Linked DNA regions of Homo sapiens: region 1 is linked to region 2. Evidence: fine-mapped expression QTL. A gene starts in region 2. The other region holds a variant in brackets. All regions are shown on one strand. Distances are from middle to middle.

Region 1 (4,376 bases), 24 kb before region 2:
AAGACGGGCAGATCACCTGAGGTCAGGAGTTTGAGACCAGCCTGAGCGACATGGCAAAACCCTGTCTCTACTAAAAATACAAAAATTAGCCGGGCGTGGTGTCAGGCGCCTGTAATCCCAGCTACTTGAGAGGCTGAGGTGGGAGAATGGATTGAACTGGGGAGGCGGAGTTTGCAGTGAGCCGAGATGGCGCCATTGCACTCCAGCCTGGGTAACAGAATGAGACTCATCTCAAAAAAAAAAGACAAAAATCAGATCTCTCAAGAGCAAAAGGAAAAAAAAAAACAAAACAAACAAAAAAAAAAAAGAGAGAAAAAAGGCCCTGACCCTAGTCATGCCTCTTCAGAAGGCAAAGGAGCCAGGCAGGAGCTCCTGCCTGGACCAGAGTTGGCCAGGCACAGTGGTAATCCCAGCACTTTGGGAGACTGAGGCAGGAGGATCGCTTTGGGCCAGGAGTTCAAGACCAGCCTGGGCAACATAGCGAGACTCCCTCTCTACAGAACATTTCAAAAGTAGCCGGACGTAGCAGCATGTGCCTGTAGACCTAGCTACTTGGGAGGCTGGAGTAGGTGGATTGTTTGAGCCCAGCAGTTGAAGGCTGCAGTGAGCTATGATTGCATCACTACACTCCAGCCTGGGTGAAAGAATGAGAGCTTATCTCTAAAAAAAAAATTTTTTTTTAATTTTTAAGGAGCCCAGAGCTTTGACAGTGTCCCTAAAGTTAAGGTGATGGGGTGGGAAACAGAAAATGGATCAAAGTGTCTCAAAATGAGCCCAATTACCCCTTTGGCTGAATTTGGCAACCCTGTTATACCTAAAGTAGGAACTGCAGCTACAGAGGATGTTCTTATGGGCACTGAACTCAAAGCCATTGACCTTGATGACCACGTCGCAGAGCTTGCCCTCTAGTCTAAGCTCGTTGAAGATCTCACAGGCCATCGCACTCATCTTCCTCTCCATGTGAGGCTGGTGGAAACGTGTGGAGGCCGCCGCGCTCTCCATCTCCATGGCACCCTGGGACAGCGGAGAGAGGCTGCTTTCCTAGGGTGTCGGGGAGGGTTGTGGGGGGCCCCTTTAGCCAGCTGTCGCTCCTTTTCCCTACTACATCTTTTGTATAGGGTCTATCAGGCAACCCAAGTTCCAGAATCCTGGCCCTGCAGTGAGATCACACAGGATTGTGCTCTCAGGTTCTGGAACTGCCTCCTGGACTTGTCCTCTTCCTTCTCCCCTCCTTACCACCCCACTTAGGCTGAAAACCACCTCACACCTCCTTCTGTGTCCTTGAACCCAAAACAGAACCATGACCACTAGCACCATCTGAGTGTTTATTGATTCCAGCTCCTGTTACTCACCTGATACAGGTCTCTATCCCTGGAGCATTCATCTACCTTCCACAGCCCAACACTTGGCTCCCTAGACACCGAACTCAAGGAAATCCAAGTCAATTGAGGCTGAAGGGAGAAGTAAAACTGATTAAATTTCTTTCTTAGGCCGGGCGCAGTGGCTCACACCTGTAATCCCAGCACGAGGTGGATGGATCACAAGGTCAAGAGATCAAGGCCATCCTGGCCAACATGGTGAAACCTCGTCTCTACTAAAAATACAAAAATTAGCTGGGCGTGGTGGCACATGCCTGTAGTCCCAGCTACTTGGGAGGCTGAGGCAGGAGAATCGCTTCAACCCAGGAGATGGAGGTTGTAGTGAGCCGAGATCGCTCCACTGCACTCCAGCCTGGCGACAGAGTGAGACTCCATCTCAAAAAAAAAATCTTTCTTTTTCTAGGGACGGGTCTCGCTCTCTCACCCAGGCTGGAGTGCAGTGGTGTGATCATAACTCACTACAGCCTCGACCTCCTGGGCTTAAGTGATCCTCCCACCTCAGCCTCCTGAATAGCTGGGATTACAAGTGCTCCGCACCGTGCCCAGCCAACGCTGATTACATTTCAGAAAGCTGTCCCGGGTCTCCCAGCCCGCTGGATGGGTTAGTCACTCAGTTTCTTCTGGAATGAGGAATGGCCTAGTTAACAGAGCCCTTTCTGGGTGATTAACAGAATTCAGTTTATGGCTCCTTCATCTCTCCTCCCATCCAGCCGTGTGGTTTTTCTGTTTTTGTTTCTGAGACAGGGTGTCATCTGTCACCCAGGGTGGAGTGCAGTGGTATGATCTCGGCCTACTGGAGCCTGGATCTCCCGGGCTCAAGTGATCCTCGTGCCTCAGCCTCCCGAGTAGCTGGGACTACAACAGGTGCGTGTCACCATGCCCGGCTAATTTTTGTATTTTTTGTAGAGACAGGGTTTCGTCATATTGC[C/T]CAGGCTGGTCTCGAACTCTTCGGCTCAAGCGATCATCCTGCCTCGGCCTCCCAAAGTCCTGGGATTACAGGTATGGGCCACCGCGCCCAGCCCCAGTCATGTTTTTGTCACAAACTTTCAGCCTGGAAATGACCACGTTTGGCAAGGCTTTTCCTCCACAAAGAGTGGCAGAACCCTACCTACCCACGTAACCCCAACACCTTGGGACCTTCACCCTGCTCTTCATAATAAATAGAACCCTCCTCCAGTTTGCCTAGCGCAACCGGCAAGCCCACCCGGATCGCGGCCATCTCCGGGACCGCTCGATTCTCGGCCCCACCCCCGCCCCGCCCCCGGCCCCACCAACCCCCGCCCGGGCTCCAGGCGGGAGGCGACGCCTGCGCAGTGCGGTCGCGGGGCTGTCGTTGTCCCGCGAGCCGCCGACCAGGCCTCGAACGGGATGGCAGAGGAGGTGAGGAGGGAGGAAGCGTCCGGAGTGGGGCGGGCCCGGACTCCGACCCCCGGGGCGCTTCGAGCCCCCCAGCTGGTCACCGAGGCACCGCCGCTTCACCCAGGCCAGTAGCCGCCCCCTCGCGCACCCCGGCCCCGCCTCACACGCGCGCCCGAGCGAGCCCCGGGCTCCCCTCGGGCCCAGCGTGGCGCAGGGGTCAGTGGTTCTCTCGGGTCTCGGGACAGGTGAGCACCCTGATGAAGGCCACGGTCCTGATGCGGCAGCCTGGGCGGGTGCAGGAGATCGTGGGCGCCCTCCGCAAGGGCGGCGGAGACCGGTTACAGGTACCTCTGGGGCGTGCGGGGGCCGGCCGGGCTGGGGGCGGCTGGAGAGGCTTCCTGCCCATTGGGCCTTCCCGCTTTGCTCTGCCGCGGACCCCTCCTAGCTCTCTGCCCCAAGAAATGGCCGGGAGCTTGAAGGAGAGCGGGTTGGTTCGCCTGTCCTAAAACCCAAATTTCAGATTTCTCAATATGGTCATGCTGCTTCCTCTAATTGGACAGAAGGCGCCCACACCAGTACCTAGGGCCTTATCCTCCCCAAGCCAGCGGCTCCCCAGTAAGTTGAAGATGTCCAGATGGGCCGTAATGGTAGAGATCTCTTAGGAGGGACCTGATATTGAAGGAGTCAGAGGGGTCCTGAGTATTCACCCTTGCCCCCACACTAGGAGACTGCGTTTTCCTCAGGGTTAACGGGTACTAATTAGGATCACTTCCCCTCTATCCCTCTGTGTCACTCGGTAACTCCCCTAGGGCTTTGCCTACATCCTGGCCACTGAGCTGTATTGATTTCCATAATCATCCCCCAGGCTGAGGCAGGGCCACACTAGAATTCTGGTGCCTATTTAGGCATCATCTCTCTTTTGCCTTATAGGTGATTTCTGATTTTGACATGACCTTGAGCAGGTTTGCATATAATGGAAAGCGATGCCCTTCTTCTTACAGTAAGTCACATTCTAGCTTCCCTTGTTGAGCTTGACAAGACGATGGGTTCTAAGGGACAAGTAAAAGGAGTTTTCTCTTTTTCCAGATATTCTGGATAATAGCAAGATCATCAGTGAGGAGTGTCGGAAAGAGGTGGGTTGCTCCCGTCCTTTGCTCAGAAATGGTTGTCATTTGCTACTTCAAATGGTTCCTGATTGGAACCAAAGATTCCAGTATAGAGACCTTAGAAAATTAATTTTTAAAAACTTGTTGTTTTGCTAAGGAGGGTCTAGTTTTAATACATTAAGACAGCTTTTCCTTACTGGCCAGGACATATGATGATTAATGGTTGGAACTGGACATTATATTTACTGTTGGCTATAGAGTTTACAAGAGATTTGAACATTCTGGAGGTTCAGCAACTTACCCAGGGTCATACAGCCAAATGGCAGAGCTTGTTTGTTTGTTTGTTTTGAGACAGGGTCTCACTCTATCACCCAGGCTGGAGTGCAATGGCTTGATCTTTGTTCACTGCAGCCTTGACCTCCTAGGCTCAAGTGATCCTCCTGCCTCAGCCCTACTGAGTAGCTGGAACTACAAGCATGTAACATTACACCTAGCTAATTTTAAAAATTTTTTGTAGAGATGGGGTCTCACT
Region 2 (4,376 bases):
TAATCACAGCTACTTGGGAGGCTGAAGCAGGAGAATTGCTTGAACCCAGGAGGTTGCAGTGAGCTGAGATGGCACCACTGCACTCCAGCCTGGGCGACAGAGTGAGCCTCCAGCTAAAAAACAAAAAGTTTTCCAAGCTCAACACTCATGAGCTGGGCTCCCAGAGTCCCCATCAGGGATGACATCCCCTAAATCCCAACCCCTGCCTCACTCCTAGCAGTCAAGGGCTCAGGGCTGCACTTCTGGCTACTACCCTATATCTGAATTTGCCCACCAAGCAGACAGGTTTTAAGTCTGGACTGTTTCCTTCTCAGTGTTGTTATGAAGGCTTAAGCTCTGCATTAAGTTTCTACAAGTTCCACAGCATCAGGTCATATGGTTTTCCTCAGGGTCAATGTTAATGTGTGCTGAACTGGCTGGAGGACTGCCAGGCCCTGTGAGAAGCCTACGTTCATTCATCCATGTCCTTGGAGTCCTAACATCAGCCTTAGCAAGTAGGTCCTGTTTTTGTCTCCACTTTTCAGATAAGGAAAGTGATGCCTAAAGAGACAAAATTCTCTGTCCATGGTCATAGCCTGGATTTGAACCAGGGTCTTGGGACTCTTGGAGTTTGTAGGCTTACCCCAATATATGCCTGCCTCTAAAGTCATGGCCACTAATTTCCTGTGGGCTGAGTTGTGTGTTTCAGAGGAGGGTCTAAGAAACACTGACTTCTTTCAGTGTGCTGTGGGGTCTGTGTGTAACTGGGACCCTAGATTTACCCCTGAGGCTGGCATACAGCCCTGCCCTGTCCCCGCTAACAAAAGTGGACTTGCTGGGGCAGACCAAAGGCCTGGGTCAGACCAGGAGGCCACCTTACAAACCCCAAGGCTGGCAAAAATGGGCGGCCTGTGCCTCTGGCCTGGTGTACCTAAAATGGAGAGAGATGAGGGTTCCAGGAGAACCAGAGAGGGAGGAATGAAATTCCTCCAAGGAGCCCAGGGTGGCATGTCCGACTGTGTGACACGTAGACAGGGCCTCCGCAGGGAGCCACGCGCTACCCCCAGGTCCAGCCGGCTGTCTTCTTATAATACCCACCAGCCTTTTTCCCTGCCCACCAGCCGCTGAAAACTCCCACCCCCTCCAAAAAAAAGTTCTATTCCCTCTTCTCTGACCACAAAGGCACTGAAAACAGTGGAACCAGAAGGGGAGTCAGGGTGGGTGGAAAGGTACGGGGTCCAGGCTGATAGACCATCCCAGGGTTCTTAAGCAGCAGGGACCACCCCCTTCCCCCCAACACTGTAGATCAGAACACCCCTCTCCATCAGGTCATTACATACAGCCCTGGTAACTACACAAGGCAGTTCACCTTGATTATCGAGTCCTTTCCGGGATGTGGAGAGCTTGTGAGAAAGAAATGGGATCCTTTGAGAAGTGAGGGTTTGGAAGTGGGGGCAGGAGGGTATCTTTGGGGAGATGGGTGTCTGGGAGGCCCCAGGGGTGCTGTCTAGGGTTAGAGTATTGGGATGCAGAGCTTAAAAGAGGCAACAAGGAAACAGGACCCCGGGTTCAGGGGACGGAGTGGTGAATCCGGGGGCGCCCAACCGGGGTTACCTTGAATCAAACTTCTTGCCATCTTCAAAAGTGCCGTTGTAGTGGTAGCGCACAAAATCCCCCATCTGCACTTCCCGGGGACAGGCCCTGGGGATGTGGTACCTCTCGATGACCACATCTTCCAGGGGGCCCCCGGCCGGGCTGGCGCGGCCCAGCCCCCTCCCCACGGCCTGCACCACCAGTAGCAGCAACTGCAGCAGGGGGAGCCGGAGGAGGCTGTGGCTGGGGGGGCCCGCGGGGAACATGGTGCCTGGAGTTGGGACCGCCGGCAGTGAGGGCGAGCGAGGGAGTCGCCACCAACCTCCTTCCCCCCGCCTCCCAGAACTGGCTCCCCCTCTTCCTGTCCTCTTTCCCTACCCCCGCCCTGGCTGGTCCACGTGGAATGGGGGCTGGGAAGACTGAGCTGGCCTGGCCGGGAGGAGCGGGGGAGGGGGTTGCAATAGGAGGAGGGGGCCAGGCTGAGTGTGTTAGAGTCTGAGGGAGGCACTACAAAGAACTCTAGGTTCCCCCTCCCCCCATCTCCATCCCTGGCTGCGAGACCTGGGGCCTGGCCAGGGAGAGAGGCTCGGGAAAGATGAGAACTCTGAGTGGACACCAAAGGAAAAAAAAAAAAAAAAGTTCAATGACTTTTTCCGGAGCCCCCGGGTCCTAAAGCCGGGCGGAGATGAACCTTGCTTCTTTCGCGGGCACTTCGAATTCTAGTCCCCTCCAGGTGGGTGGTGAAGCCGCGGAGTGTGAGAGGCATCTCCGTGCTCATCCGTGACCCCAGCTGTACTCCAAGGGAAGGCATCTCCAGGGAAGAGCAGCTTGGTCCCGCAAAAGCTGGACTGAAAGAAGGACTTTGTGACTTGGGATGTGACGGGCACGGAGATGGAGTGGGGGGTGGTGGCAGCGCAAGGTGTGCAGGTGACAGCAGGTGTGTGCCTCCGACGTGGGCGGGGGAGACACTCGGAGGGTGCAGGAGGGCGCAGCGACGGAAGGCCCGGCTCCAGGGCTTCCTTCTCGTATGGGCAGCGCAGAGGAGGCGGCCCTCACTCAGTGTCCTGATCTCAGGCGGGGGCACTGTTTGCATGGGGAGGGGCTTCCTGGGCTTCCCATCTCTGGCGGGAAGCGCTCCCCGACGCATTCTCTACCTAGGGGACACCCCCAAGGCAGGAGCCCGGGCCGACGGAGAGGACTTAACGACACTATCGGACCCTCTGGGAAAAGAGGGGAGACGTCGTGACCCAGGCCCCGCCCCACCTTGCCGCCTCGTGCCCGGCGCTAAGACCCAGCGGGCGCGCCGCCCGCCCGGGGCCCGGCCCTGTCCCCTTCCGTCCGCGGGGCAGCCAGCTCAGCTCCGGAGAGCCGGCGGCGCGGCGGGCATGGCTCGGGTGGCGTGGGGGCTGCTGTGGTTGCTGCTGGGCAGCGCCGGGGCGCAGTACGAGAAGTACAGCTTCCGGGGCTTCCCGCCCGAGGACCTGATGCCGCTGGCCGCGGCGTACGGGCACGCTCTGGAGCAGTACGAGGGAGAGAGCTGGCGCGAGAGCGCGCGCTACCTGGAGGCGGCGCTGCGGCTGCACCGGCTCCTGCGCGACAGCGAGGCCTTCTGCCACGCCAACTGCAGCGGCCCCGCGCCCGCGGCCAAGCCCGATCCCGACGGCGGCCGCGCAGACGAGTGGGCCTGCGAGCTGCGGCTCTTCGGCCGCGTCCTGGAGCGAGCCGCCTGCCTGCGGCGCTGCAAGCGGACGCTGCCCGCCTTCCAGGTGCCCTACCCGCCGCGGCAGCTGCTGCGTGACTTCCAGAGCCGCCTGCCCTACCAGTACCTGCACTACGCGCTGTTCAAGGTGGGAGCCCGCCCCCACCCGGGGACCTGTCTCGGGCTGGGCGTCGTGGCTCCCCACAGATCGGTCGAAGGAGCGTTATCTTCACCCAAGGCACGAAGCCCGCCGTGCGCTCGGGGCCGCGAGCTCCGGTCTTGCTGACCCGCTCCCCCACCCCCTACCCCCCGACCAGGCTAACCGGCTGGAGAAGGCGGTGGCGGCGGCCTACACCTTCCTCCAGAGGAACCCGAAGCACGAGCTGACCGCCAAGTATCTCAACTACTATCAGGGGATGCTGGACGTCGCCGACGAGTCCCTCACGGACCTAGAGGCCCAGCCCTACGAGGTGGGGTGGAGGGTCAGGAGGAGGCTTGTAGAGGAGGGCTAGTAGAGGAGGGGAGATGTTGGGGGCGCCCTGACTCCCCCTGCCACGCCCCTTCCAGGCCGTGTTCCTCCGGGCTGTGAAGCTCTACAACAGCGGGGATTTCCGCAGCAGCACGGAGGACATGGAGCGGGCCTTGTCAGAGTACCTGGCAGTCTTTGCCCGGTGCCTGGCCGGCTGTGAAGGGGCCCATGAGCAGGTGGACTTCAAGGACTTCTACCCGGCCATAGCAGGTATCTGCCACCCAGACCACGGTGGGCGGTCCTCTCACCCACAGGGCCCGGTAAGGCAGATGTCCCCTTCATGCACGTGGAGCACTGCGAATGCGGAGGAGCCAGCCGGGAGGAAGGCCTTGTCTGTTGAGAAAGACGCTGGGTGCAGGGGCCCCAGCTGGGAGTGTCCAAGGGGCTGGATCAGTGAGTAGAGGCAGTGACATCCCTAAAGGGTTTGGGAAGCTTGGGTTCATAGGCCTTCCAGGCAGAGGGCAGTGCAGATGCAAAGGTGCAGCGGTGAGAAGTAACCCAGCAGATGTGTGCAGAAAGCAGTTGATAACCAGAAATTACACCTAGTCTTGGGATCTCTAACCCTGGGGTCCCTCG

Which allele goes with the higher level. Positions count from the first base shown, and alleles are read on the strand shown. Sizes are in standard deviations (SD) of each study's normalised expression.
For the expression in sun-exposed skin of the gene that starts at base 1,869 in region 2, C is the high allele of the variant in region 1 and T is the other (small effect, 0.27 SD a copy in GTEx).

What was found. PIP is the estimated chance that this variant, and not a neighbour inherited with it, causes the effect.
Region 1: its variant is the best candidate, but not a certain one, in a credible set for the expression of FKBP10 in sun-exposed skin (GTEx, PIP 0.56).

The regions. Positions count from the first base shown.
Region 1 is chr17:41,834,565-41,838,940 of GRCh38, reverse strand. It overlaps NT5C3B (5'-nucleotidase, cytosolic IIIB), which reads left to right and starts at 2,709. Exons shown (of 9, transcript NM_052935.5): 1 at 2,709-2,759; 2 at 2,984-3,082; 3 at 3,669-3,738; 4 at 3,825-3,871. The coding sequence starts at 2,748. KLHL10 (kelch like family member 10) reads right to left here and starts at 1,116. Exons shown (of 5, transcript NM_152467.5): 1 at 815-1,116. The coding sequence starts at 1,008. RefSeq lists an enhancer at 2,106-2,185 and silencers at 2,606-2,985, 3,116-3,225. The variant C/T (reference allele first, on the strand shown) is at 2,308.
Region 2 is chr17:41,810,497-41,814,872 of GRCh38, reverse strand. FKBP10 (FKBP prolyl isomerase 10) reads right to left here and starts at 1,869. Exons shown (of 10, transcript NM_021939.4): 1 at 1,594-1,869. The coding sequence starts at 1,838. P3H4 (prolyl 3-hydroxylase family member 4 (inactive)) reads left to right here and starts at 2,924. Exons shown (of 8, transcript NM_006455.3): 1 at 2,924-3,419; 2 at 3,589-3,741; 3 at 3,839-4,010. The coding sequence starts at 2,958. RefSeq lists enhancers at 1-68, 2,555-2,664 and a silencer at 2,805-3,294.